Linked DNA regions of Homo sapiens: region 2 is linked to region 1. The links come from fine-mapping of genetic effects on gene expression. Tissue or cell type: cerebral cortex. Region 1 holds a variant in brackets; the other region holds the start of a gene. All regions are shown on one strand. Distances are from middle to middle.

What was found. PIP is the estimated chance that this variant, and not a neighbour inherited with it, causes the effect.
Region 2: it holds the start of PRRX1, and the variant in region 1 is fine-mapped to the expression of PRRX1 in cerebral cortex (GTEx, PIP above 0.99).

What each region holds. Positions count from the first base shown.
Region 1 is chr1:169,807,332-169,815,527 of GRCh38, forward strand. FIRRM (FIGNL1 interacting regulator of recombination and mitosis) reads left to right here. Exons shown (of 25, transcript NM_001320047.2): 9 at 460-598. Among named protein-coding and RNA genes, the nearest start is that of FIRRM, 16 kb to the left of the region's middle. The variant A/AG (reference allele first, on the strand shown) is at 4,444.
Region 2 is chr1:170,660,977-170,666,447 of GRCh38, forward strand. It overlaps PRRX1 (paired related homeobox 1), which reads left to right and starts at 3,155. Exons shown (of 4, transcript NM_022716.4): 1 at 3,155-3,483. The coding sequence starts at 3,243. RefSeq lists enhancers at 2,060-2,587, 3,788-4,648.

The DNA.
Region 1 (8,196 bases):
CCCTAAGATTAAGTTAGATTGATATCCTTACCCTAAGAATAAGTTAGATTAGGTCTCTCTATTGTAGCACCTTAGACTCTGTCATTTGACAAATCACAGCCCTAATTAATTATTCTTAAAATTATTTAACATTCTCTCTCATGCTAGACCACAAGTTTCATGCAGGTAAGGCGGAGATTGTGTCCATTTGTTTGACCCCTTTGTCTCCAGGGCCTGGTAGAATGCCTCATACATAGTAAGAATTCAATTAATATTTTACACAGAGAAAAAATTAGCAACTTATTTAAACAAATATAACTGCTTCAGAGGTAAACTGGGCACATCTTAGTTATATTATGTGATATATGATGCTTTTTGATTGTTTTTTTAAATGTTCTACAAGGTAGATATTGTTAGAGGTCCTAAGTTACTTGATGTGTTACTTGTGGTGATTGTATTCTTTTCTTTTTATTCATTTAGGCAGAGCCTTAAGCACCAGTCCATAATAAAAAGCCAGTTGAAACACAAAGATATAATTACTAGCTTGTGTGAAGACATTCTTTTCTCCTTCCATTCTTGTTTACAGTTAGCTGAGCAGATGACACAGTCAGATGCACAGGTAAAATTTGGGCTAATAGCATTTTAAACAGCAACTCTTATTTTCTTTGGCAGTTAGTAAATCTCATTTGAATGTCTGGGTCAGTCTATTTAAGAGGATTTTAATTTATTTCATTTGGGTGTTTTTTTTTGATCTGTGGGATTATTTATATCCCATAATTACTTTTCACCCAGAGCATTGTATTAGATTCCTAACTGCTGTCATTGCCTCTGGGGTCTGCCTGGCTCCCTCTTTGCTTGGTAACTGGTTGGTCACAGCATTCTTCTCAGAATCCTTTCATTCTTTTCTGCATGAGAACAAAAATTCTTTTGTTCATATTTGTATAAGATCTGATATAGCTGCAATCAATCTTGCATTTTTTCTTCACCAACGCATTGCGACCTTTAGGGATACAAGTATGTTTGTGCATGTATATGTATGTATCAGTCTTTTAAATTTGATATAGTCATACATTTGTTTTTATTTTGAAAAGTTAGAGTGTTGAATTGGTATCCCATTTATGAAACATTATATTCTAAAAATTTGTAGTACGATTATTGGGAATTATAACTCATTTTCCTGTAACACTGTTATACATAGTACCTTTTGCTTTCAGACTAGCCCTCAATTTTATTTAACTATAGTAGTCCTAAATTATAAGATTAATAGTACTCAGGACCTAACAGTTATATGTCATTTGTTTTTTTTTTTTTTGAGATGGCGTCTCACTCTGTCACCCAAGCTGGAGTGCAGTGGTATGACCTTGGCTCACTGCAGCCTCTGCCTCACGGGTTCAAGGGATCGTTCTGCCTTAGCCTCCTGAGTAGCTGGGATTATAGGCGCCTGCCACCACGCCTGGCTAATTTTTTTAGTAGAGACGGGGTTTCGCCATGTTGGCCAGGCTGGTCTCGAACTCCTGACCTCAGGTGGTCCACCCGCCTTGGCCTCCCAAAGTGCTGGGATTACAGGTGTGAGCCACCGCGCCCAGCCTATATGTAATAATTTTAATGGGACCATGAATTGAATATTTCTTCCTTGAATAGCAATGACATAGCCCCTTCTATTGTACATCTGCAAGCTGATACAGGGAATTCCTTTGTACCTGCGCTCTTCCCTGCCAGTCAGCTATGGGGGTGAAAGTGTAGGGGTTCATCCAAGTCCTAAAACTGGTAGCAACTCCTAGGGCAGGGCTGATCTGGAAGGACAGACCCTAGGGGAGGGTGGAACTTTAAAAAGAAGTTCTGAAGGTAGTAAGAAGGAAATGAGGAGTAGTGTTAGGAAGGGGCTAACTTTTTTCTTCTTGCTTCTCTTCTTTATCTCACCTGCCCCTCCCCTTGTATCCCTTCTTCCTTTTTCCCTTTCCTTTTTTGTCCTCACTTCATTCGTGCATCCTTTCTGATTCCTCTTACCTTGCTAAAAGGAGAAGTTTGTTTGGGTATCCTATATCAATGGCAGGAAGGTTGTTTTCTTCTTTACCTTTATCCTATAGATTCATATTCTCAACACCAACCTCCTCCTTTTTCAGTTTCCTTCTTGCTTCTCTTGACACCACAGAGTTTGCAGCTAGTACTTGGAGAGGAAAATTAAACAGAGATACTTGGACCAAGAGTAAGATGAAGAAAGTCTAAACAACAGTATAGTCTATAGTGGCAAGAGAGAGTATGGGGGCTGCTTAGCCAGGGTGGCTGTACATAAAGTATATCTTCAGTTTATATAAACTGCTTATAGATGGAAATCAGAAAATTTAAATTCTCTTAACTGTCCAAGAAAATTCTCATTTTTTCAAATTTGGGACTGATAAATGTGACCAGTTCTGCTTACTGTCCATTGCCTGAAATGGAGCTTTGAGGTGGACTGTATAATTTCTTCAATCTTAACTCCAAATTCTGATCAGCGACGCCCTCTGCTGTTCACTATTAATATTTATTTACCAATCAAAGTAAAGTATTGAAGTTTTCCTGGCAGTTTTCACTTTGTGTTTTAGTCCATTTAGGCTGCTATAACAAAATCCCTTAAACTGGGTAAGGGATTATAAATATTAGAAATTTATCTCTCACAGTTCTGGAAGCTGGGAAGCCCAATATCAAGGCACCAGTAGATTTGGTGTCTAACGAGGGTGTGCCGTCTGCTTCAAAAATGGCCCCTTGTTGCTGCATCCTCACTTAGTGCAAGGGGCAAGACAGCTCCCTTCAACCTCTTTTATAAGGGCACTTATGTCATTCATGAGGGCAGAGCCCTCATGACTTAATCACTTCCCCAAAGGCCCCACCTCTTAATAGTATCACATTGGGTGTTAGGTGTCTGGGAGGACACCAATCTTCAAGCCATATCATCTCACTTGGAAAAAAGTCAAAATAAAACCAGTAGATTTAATTAATATTACACTATTTATAGAAGCATGTGATGTATCATTCCTTGTATTAATTTCCTGGGGTTGCCGTAACAAGTTACCACAAACTAGGTGGCTTAAAACAATAGAATTTTATTCTCTCACATTTCTAGAGGCAGAAGTTCACAGTGTGTCAATAGGGCCATGTTCTCTGGAAGGCTTTAGGGGAGAATATATTTCATATCTTTCTCTTAGCTTCTCGGTGTCACTGGCAATCCTTAGCTTACTTTGGCTTTCTGTGTCTTCACATCATCTTTTTATAAGAACACCAGTGATAGTGATTAAGGGCATACCTTACTTTAATATGACCTCATCTTAACTAATTATGTCTTCAATAACCCTATTTCCAAATAAGGCCACATTCTGAAGTATTGGGAGTTAGAACTTAAAGCTTTTTGGGAGGGACACAGTTCAACCCATAACAACCCCTAAAATCGATATTTATTCTCAATTAAGTCTTGAAATTGGTTTCAAAAAGAGAATATTCTATTAGAGTTTTTAATGTATAGTTTTAACATATAGTTCTTTAGCCCCCAATTTTTTTTTTTTTTTTTTTTTTTTTTTTTTTTTTTTGAGACGGAGTCTCGCTCTGTCGCCCAGGCCGGACTGCGGACTGCAGTGGCGCAATCTCGGCTCACTGCAAGCTCCGCTTCCCGGGTTCACGCCATTCCCCTGCCTCAGCCTCCCGAGTAGCTGGGACTACAGGCGCCTGCCACCGCGCCCGGCTAATTTTTTTGTATTTTTAGTAGAGACGGGGTTTCACCTTGTTAGCCAGGATGGTCTCGATCTCCTGACCTCATGATCCACCCGCCTCGGCCTCCCAAAGTGCTGGGATTACAGGCGTGAGCCACCGCGCCCGGCCTGCCCCCAATTATTTAGTTTTTCTATAAACAGGGAAATTTATTTGTGTGGCCCTTAGAACTAATTTAATTTCCACTCTAATTCCTACTTATGTTTATATAATGCTTTTAGAAATTTGTATTATTCAGAAAATAAACATATACTATTGTATCTGTTGCCTACACTTAGATTTTATTGCCTGCTATATTTAAATTTTATTAGTATTTTAATTGTTTTATTAAAGAAAGAATGTGCCTGTAATCTCAGCACTTTTGAGAGGCCAAGGCAGAAGGATTGCTTGAGCCCAGGAGTTTGAGACCAGACTGAGCAACACAGGGAGACCCCCATCTCTACAAAAAATAAAAAAATTCTCCAGGCCTCATGGCACATACCTGTAGTTCTAGTTACTTGGGAGACTGGGGTGGGAGGATGCATTGAGCCCAGGAGATTGAGGCTGCAGTGAGCCATGATCAGGCCACTGTACTCCAGCTTGGACAACAGAGTGAGAGCTTGTCTAGATAGATAGATAGATAGATAATCTAAATAGATAATAGACAGATTATCTAAATAGATAATAGACAGATTATCTAAATAGATAATAGACAGATTATCTAAATAGATAATAGACAGATTATCT[A/AG]AATAGATAATAGACAGATTATCTAAATAGATAATAGACAGATTATCTATCTAAATAGATAATAGATTATCTAAATAGATAATAGATAGATAGATTAGATAGATAGATAGATAGATAGAGCTTGGACAACAGAGTGAGAGCCTGTCTAGATAGATAGAAACAAAGAAAGAAAGAAAGAATGGTGCTCATATTTTAAAGCATTGAAAAATGGTCTTCCTTGCTTATATTACCCACACCTTCTTTGTTGGCATTAAGATGCAAACTTTGTTTTAAACAGTTGAGTAAATCAAAGATGGGACTGTTAAGTTATTTGTGTTATTTACCTGCTTTTTGAAAATGTAAAAATAAAACTCTAGGTTTAATTAGTAGTATGCTATTTAGTAATGAAGTAAAGCTAGAGGCTTCGAACAAATCTTGTGTAATTTCCTCTTGAATGAGAGAGAAAATTTAAAGTAAGCAAACAAATAAGTTGTGTGTCACCACTCATTCAGTCATTTAACAAGTATTTCCAGAGTACTTATTCTGTGCCAGGAAATGTTGTAGGTGCCCTCAACAACTTAGAGTCTAGCCTGAGACACAAGTAAGTAGGTAATTATTATAGAATGGTATGATCTTTGGAGGACTGGGTATTGGCTGGCTCATGGGAGTACAAGATAGGTACCCAGTGATGAAGTCAGGAAAGGTTTCTTATGGTGATATGATGACGTCTATGCTGATTATAAGGTCAGTGTAGAATAAACTTTGTGCTTTTAAATTTGCATAGCACTGTATTAGAGAGTTCATCTTCAAAATAATCGAAAAGGCTGAGTGTGGTGACCCATGGCTGTAATCCCAGCACTTTGGGAGGCCGAGGTGGGCAGATTGCTTGAGCTAGGAGTTCGAGACCAGGCTGGCCAACATGGTGAAACCCCGTCTCTACTAAAAATACAAAAATTAGCCAGGAGTGATGGTGCGCACCTGTAATGCCAGCTACTTGGGAGGCTGAGGCAGGAGGATCACTTGAACCCAGGAGGTGGAGGTTGAAGTAAGCCGAGGTCATGCCACTGCACTCCAGCCTGGGCAACAGAGTGAGACTCCATCTCAAAAAAAAAAAAAATGATCAAAGAAAGGTGAATTTTCATCTACCCTATTTCTGCTGAGGAAAATGGACTATTTTCAAATATTTTTAATAAGGGTCAAAATGAGGGATCATATTCCATTAGCGAACCATCCAACTCTGTTTTGATTTGGTTTAATGAAGATTTTGCTATATTGGAAAAGAAACATAGCCAATCAACATATAAGTTAAGATATGTTATTTTCATATGAAATAATTCACAAATTAAAGACAGTAATTTATTTGACTTAATTTTATGGCACTATTTAAAGCTGTTTGGATTATAGTGTGTATTATAAACTTGGGTGGTGGAACAACCAATATTTATTGAGCTAAGTTGCTTAAACGTCAGACACTGTTTAAATCTCACAATAATCCTGTATTAGCCTCATTATAGATGAGAAAACTGGGCCACAGAAAGGTTTAATAACTTTCCCCAGATCATATAGTAGTTGTAGTAGGACCAGGACTTAAATCCAGGCAGATGAATCTATAGCCCTCCCTGCATATTATTGGCACTACCCACTGTTTTATCAATTTACAAATGTAATACGTAATCAGAAAACTCACACATATTACACAAGTATCTAACATGGAAGGTTAAATCCTATTTTCGTCTACTAGAAAGAATCACAGGAAAGGTTTTGATTTATTTTGGGGGTGGTTTAACACATTTAAAAATAATGATAGGATTGTGTTATCATTAGAGTCAATAGACAAATCTCTGAAAACAGAACGTTTTATTTGGGAGGAAGTAATTGCACTTTGGAGCATTCATGCAGACCAATTGTTCGGTATGTCCACAGAAAAAGGAGAAGGTTAGCGGTCTTATAAAAAAGGAGACATATTACATATAGCTCTTCAAGAAAGTCCATTGGCACTAGATTTGGGGAGCTGTCAAGCTCTGATTGGTGAGTGATGGCAGTGGGTAACACTGGTCTTAGAGTTGCACTAGTTTCTTTCAGTAGCCCTTAGATAAAACTGGTTTCCGGTTACAGCAGGCAGTTTCAGCAGCCAGGCCTACAGAGAATTACATTTTGGGAGAAATGTTTTGTGCCCTGAGTGCTTTTCCCCTAGGCCTGTTGACTCTGTTTTAGTTGGGTATGACAAGAATGACTCAATTTTTGTAATTAATTTTACATTATACAAGTTGTTTACAATTTGATTTTTTACTTAACAGTTTATCCTTAGGGCTTTCTGTGTCCATGAAGATATATGTACCTGATTCTTATGTGATTATACTATAAATTTATAGTTGACCCTTGAACAATGCAGGTCTGAACTGCACAGGTCAACTTATGCAGACTTTTTTAAATTGTCATTTATTACCATAAAATAATACAAATCTATTATCAAAGGTTAAAATTTATCAAAACTTAGCACACAGAGACCATACATGGTACCATGCAGTTGAGAGAAATGTAAACAAAGGTAAATATGCAGTATTAAATCATAACTGCATAAAATTAACTGTGGTACATATTGTAGTACTATTAGGTTGTGCCAAAGTAATTGCAGTTTTTGCCATTATTTTCTATATATTCAGTATACAATAATTTCATAGCCACTTCCTGTTGCTGTTACTGTGAAAAGTGTTGCAAGGCCATGTGATACTAACCATCCCCACGTGAGCAGTTTGTCTCTCCAGTAAGTAAATTGCTTTTCTCAGTAAAAAGTTATTGCTTGAGGTGCCTCCATATTTTTTCATCATCTTTAATGCAATATGGAAACCCATAAGAAGTGCCACTAGTGATCCTGGAAGTGCTCCCGAGAATTCCTTGATACATATTGTAAATTGAGGTCTGCAACTGCAATTACCTGCCATTTCAGATAGATGATTCTTCTTGTAAATAGACAGTGTTAATACATATACAAAATATGTTAATCAGCTCTTTTTATTAGTAAGGCTTATAGTCAGTGGTAGGCTATTAGTAGTTAAGTTTTGGGAGACTCAAAAGTTATCCTCGGATTTTAGACCACATGGGGGTTGGCACCCCTAGACCCCATGTTGTTCAAAGGTCAACTGTATTTAGGTGTTCTCCACATGATGCACACTTGGTACATTTCAGTTTTCACTATATAAAAAAAGTTTTGTTTTTTTTTTTGTAAAGCGAAAGCAAGTTTATTAAGAAAGTAAAGGAATAAGGCCAGGCGCGGTGGCTCACGCCTGTAATCCCAGCACTTTGGGAGGCAGAGGTGGGTAGATCATGAGGTCAGGAGTTGGAGACCAGCCTGGCCAACGTGGTAAAACCCCATCTCTACTAAAAATACAAAAATTAGCTGGGCACAGTGGTGGGTGCCTGTAATCCCAGCTACTCCGGAGGCTGAGGCAGGAGAATCTCTTGAACCCAGGAGGTGGAGGTTGCAGTGAGCCGAGATCGCGCCACTGCACTCCAGCCTGGGTGACAGAGCAAGACTCTGTCTCAAAAAAAAAAAAAAGAAAAGAATAAAGAATGGTTACTCCATAGGTGGAGCAACCCCTAAGTCTCCTGGTTGGCCACTTTTATGGCCATTTCCTGATTTATATGCTAAACAAGGGGTAGATTATTCCCTTTCTGGGAAAGGGGTGGGCAATTCCCAGAACTAAGGGTTTCTCCCCTTTGTAGATCATATAGGGTAACTTCTGGTTGTTGCCAGGGTATTTGTAAACTGTGATG
Region 2 (5,471 bases), 850 kb after region 1:
AACTCTCTTGCTTGTAGCTATTCCTCGCTCCCCAACCATATTGACCATTCACCCGGATAAGGCAATTTCCTCGAAAGGGCGATCTGAGGACGCTGACCCCCTAAATGACTGAGGACGCTGGATCTTTAGGGGGAACATCGTGTCTTGGGGGTGCCAAAAGTCCCCAGCCCTTACCCACACCTTTGTCACGACGGGCAATTGGGTATGTGTAGGGGAAAAACAGCAACGTTAAAACGCAACTGTGTAAATGAGGATAGAGAGTGCGAAAGGAGGGAGAGGCGAGGAGCTGCTCTATTTCTAGGGAGGTTTTGGGGAGACTGATCAGCTCCAAGGACAGACCGCTGGGAAGGGAAAAACGGCCCACATCGAACTGGATGCCGGATGGAAACCTCTCTGCGCTATTAGACTGCGTCCAGTACAGCAGATGGCACGAGCACGTGCGGCGCTCAGCTTAGGCTCTCGGAGGCAGCTGAGTTGGAAATCCCGACGGAAAGCACCCACAAGCTCCCACTCTGCGCTGGCCCACCCGCGTGCACGCCCACCCCCCACGCGCGTCCCTGGCTCAGAAGCGCACAGATGTTTACTGCTTAGAGCCGGTACCGCTGGGGAGATCGAGCGACTTGCGCGGCGCACAGTGCGGCGCTGGCAGGGCTCTGGGCTCCCGGTCGGGGGTTCGAGCGGCCAAGGGATGGGGGTGGGGGCGGGGAGAGTGGGGGGAGGGCGAAAGACCGCCGAGAGGAGGGGGGAGTGGGTGGACTAATGATGAAAAAGTCTCCTCCATCCCAGTTCCTTAATTAAATGCATGGAAAGAACCGAGGCGAGCACATCTGGTTTCAATCTACAGCCCTTTGATGGCATCAAATGTTCTTTTCCCAGATCAGGGCTGGAAGTTCTGGGCTAACTATGGCCGTTTGGAGCCCAGAAACCATTTACACACACTCGTACCCTTCTTTCTCTCCAGTCGAGCCTCTTGACTATAGGACGAAAAAAAAAAAAAGTCTAGCAATCAAGGGAGTGCGGGAGTACGGATGCGTGTGTGTGTGTGTGAGTGCGCGTTTAAAGAACATAAAACGCCACAAATAAGCACTTAATATTTTACTGAGTCGTCATACAGTAACTCATTTCTAATGAGACTGTTAAAGCTGTTACCAAATTCCAACAGGTCATGAAAAAACTGCTCAGCACCTCTCTGTCTTCTGTCAGGTTAGGGCTCCGCAGACGGACGACAGAGGATTATCCGTAGACTTAGATGGGGGTTCCTCCGCCCCTCTCTGTCCTCCTGCCACCACAGCCAGGCTGGACGCAGAACCGCACGGAAGCCTCCCCAACTCCTGCCTCTGGGAGTGCTCCTGCCTGCTTCAAGGAATCTGGGCAGCGGGACCCTCTGGGTTTAGCGTCCTCGCCTGGGGAAGCAACTTTGGCCTTACCGTAGAAGTTACAAAATTGGCGGGGGTAGGGAGAAAGATTATAATATATATTTGGAGTCCTTTCTTCCAGTTTAATAAACACGTACTTTTCTCATTGCCCTAGTCCTGGTATGCCTAATGGCGGGGAAAGCCTCAAATAAACTCGGTGCCCTCTGGATCTCCCCAACCTGCCTTTAGTCCTTGCGAGAGGCGTGAGAGAACTTCCTATTATCATCCCTTTTGTTATTTTTATTACATTATTTAATAGGCTCCCTCTACGGAACCAAAAATAGCCTTAATATGCTTACTTTCTCCCTGTACTCCGCCCCAAACTGTTAGAACAGCAGAAAATTTTTTTTTGGGGGGGGGCGGTTTGGGGGAAGGCAGAAGGAGAAGAAAATTTGATTGTGATGGTGGTGGATTTTTTCCAAATTTCCCCACAGCTGTTATCAAAACATGCAAATGAGATTTTCCAACAGGATCTTAAACAAATCTGGAGGAGTTAATGCCGAAGCAAAATAATCAGCACGTTTGAAGTGACTGTGAGTTTCAGTTTGTCTTTTCTCCCCGTGATATTATTGCAGGGGAATGATAATTAGACCTTTAGAAATCCAAAGGGGCTCTCTTGCTCTCTTCCCTCTCTCATTTCTCTTCTCTCTTTCTCTCTCTCTCTCTCTCCCTTCCTCCCTCCCTCCCTCCCTCTCTCCCTCCCTCTCTCTTGTTCCCTCCCTCTCCCTTTCTCTCTAACTCTGATGTTGGCAAAGGGGGTTTTCTTAATCAGACTGTTTTTTGGTCCCAGGGAAAGGAGGAAGAAGGAGATTGTGATGGAGAAAGGGGGTCTGTGAAACGTCAGGCACAGCACAAAGGCTTTGCCACGTAATTACAGGCTCCTATTAAGTCGAGATCTGCCCTCCCAGGGGTCTCCAATTTTCTTGTATTCCCTACAAAGCCTCCTCTGCATGCCAGTTTGTGCCTTTTGAAGTGCCAGAGAGCTTCTTGATCCAACTGAGAAGGAAAAAGGAGCCCAGCAAGAAGAGGGGGAGAGAGAGAAGGGGAAAGGGGGGAACCCACCAGCACCCTCCGTCGGACTCTTGAAGCCTTTTTTTTTTAATTCTTAATTTTTTTTTTTACTCTTTACAAAAAGTAAAGTGAGAATCCTGCTCTCTAATACATCTGCAAGACATCACCCTCTCCTCCTGAAACTTTAGTCACTCCTGAGAATCCACAGGAGTGCAGAGAGGGGGGAACACGTTTTCTTGAAGATGTTTTAAAGCTGGAACAAGCCTTCTTCTGTTGGTGCTTGAACTCTTGCCTGGGAATAACTTTTTTAACCTTTAAAAAAACCATTCACTTTGATTCTTCTCTCCCACCCCTTCTTCTCTCTTCTTCTGTTTGCCTAACTCCCCCGCCCTGCTGGCCTCCGCTTTCCTCTCTCCCCCTTGTTATTATTTTTAGTCTGTGCGTGTGGACACTTTTGGAGAGTTGGAAGGGATTTTTTTCTCCTGACTTGAACATAGGGTGACTTTTTAATATTGTATTTTACTGTGGATTATCTCTTTGGACCGCGCCGGACTTGGCCTCAGGAAATCAACCAATGCTGCGGAAGGCGGCTGGTGCACAACGCTCTGCTCTACAGAAGGGGGTCCCCCACCCTCTTTTCCAATTTTTTTTTTTTGGCCTTCCTCTCCTTCCCTCCCTCTTCCTCCCTCTCTCTCTCTCTCTCTCCACTACCCCCCTCTTTCTTCCCCACTCGGCTCCTCTCCCCCCTCGCGCCCACAGCGTTTGGTGTTGATTCGAGCGGGAAGAGGGGGGTGGGTGGGATCGGTGGGGGAGACCATGACCTCCAGCTACGGGCACGTTCTGGAGCGGCAACCGGCGCTGGGCGGCCGCTTGGACAGCCCGGGCAACCTCGACACCCTGCAGGCGAAAAAGAACTTCTCCGTCAGTCACCTGCTAGACCTGGAGGAAGCCGGGGACATGGTGGCGGCACAGGCGGATGAGAACGTGGGCGAGGCTGGCCGGAGCCTGCTGGAGTCGCCGGGACTCACCAGCGGCAGCGACACCCCGCAGCAGGACAGTGAGTGAGGGGCGCATGCCCACGGGGGTGTGTGCCCGGGACAGAGGGCGGGGACCCGTGTAGGGCAGCTAGAGCCCGTCCGCGGCCAGAAAGACAAGGTCCTGGGACCAGGAGAGGTGATGGCAGACTTCAAAGGAAGGGCCAGTCACAGGGGAAACCAGATGAGAAAAGCGGGTCTCGGCCGAGGGCATAGCCAAGGAGGACGCTGGAGAGAGGCTCCAAGGTCCGGGGACACTCCGAGGCCCTGCGGTCTCAGGCAGGGACTCTGTCCGCGGCGGACTCTCTTTACTTCGGCTAGGCACCGGCTCGGTTCATCCCGCACGCGGGGCGGCGGGGCTGGGCTGGGAAAAGGTCTTAGCGGGGTGCAAACTCAGAGAGCCAGCGCTGTTTGGGAAAGCAGCAGGTTAAAGATGCTGAGTCGGGTTGGAAGGGCTTCTCTCGGGCAGCGTATGACGGCTTGAGGGAGGGCACCAGGCACAGGGAGCAGGACTTGGCGCTGCTCAGGCTGCACTCTCCACGCGGGCACCGTAAGGCCGGGCGCGACCGGGAGGCCCCGAGAGAACGCCCGGCCCCAGACGCTGGAGCTGCTCTCTGCCCCCTGCTGTTGCCTCTACCGCAAATGGGTTTGAGACTGGCAGAGTCAAAAGCCCGGCTGGCTTGGGAAAACTCGGGCCAAGCAAAGGGAATGTCCTTTAAGGGTGAAACCTGAAATCCAGCCCCGCATGATCCCGCACAGGCGAGCTGCATCCGGGAGGCGCGAGCTTCAGTGCGGAGGCCAGTGTCACCTTAGAGGAGCTCTCCCTATTGGCTCTTAAACGCCCAGAAAAGTCCAGTTTCCCTTCCCCATCCTCACCGACCAACCTCGCGACCCATGAAAATCTCGCTTCGCTAGTGCCTTAAAAAGAGACTGCAATTGTATCCCCATGCCCCCAAGTCTGTAACAGACCGGTCACCCTGTTCATCCCAGGTGACATGTGGCCAGATATGTACAGATACTCCCTCTTCTCCTCGAGGTTGCAAGAGTCTGAACTTAGCTGTAAGTTCTCAAATGAGGCTGGTTGCTTTCTATGTCAGTAGTTGCTGGTTACCATTTTTGTCTTCAAATTTGGAAATCGTGGAACCGGGGGGCCCTCCAGCATTCTATGATTTTCACAAAACGTTGCCTATTTCAGACTCTCAAAGAATAGACATACAAATCAAACTGCACATAGAAACAATTGGAAACAGGGTCCGGGCACAGTGGTGGCCCCGCGGGCCACGCTACAGCAAGCCGCAGAGAGAGCCTCTGGTGTGCTCAAGACGCCTGGTCTTCACCCTGCTTCCTTAGTTCCGGCCTGGGCGCCCCTGGGTGTTTTTAGCCAAAAGCGGCCTAGGGCCGATCCACCCAATGCATTAGCAGACTGCTACAGGAACTGAATGAGGAAGTCTGGCCTGGACACCAGAGAAAGGTGGCCAACTCTGAGGAATGAAGAACCAGGTGTCCTCAAGTTCCGCATAAAGGGCTAGGCGCAGAGACAGAGACGTTCTCTTTAGGGTTTGGGTGCTTGAGAGGCTGCACCCGCAGCATTACTTAAGTGTTTGCATAGGCACTCTTAGTTCTAACAAAATGCACTGAGAAATACTATGATTGTTTTTAAACGTTTTACCAGGGAAAATGAAAAACGAAAAATGTAGGGAGAGTCCAGGCGCGGTGGCTCACGCCTGTAATCCTAGCACTTTGGGAGGCCGAGGCGGGCAGATCACGAGGTCAGGAGTTCGAGACCAGCCTAACCAACGTGGTGAAACCCCTCTCTCCTAAAAATACAAAAATTAGCCGGGCGTAGTGCCGAGCGCCTGTAATCCCGGTTACTCAGCAGGCTGAGGCAGGAGAATCGCTTAAACCCGGGAAGCAGAGGTTGCAGTGAGCCCAGATAGTGCCACTGCACTCCAGTCTGGATGACAGAGTGAGACTCCGTCTCAAAAAAAAAAAAAAAAAAAAAAAGTAGGGA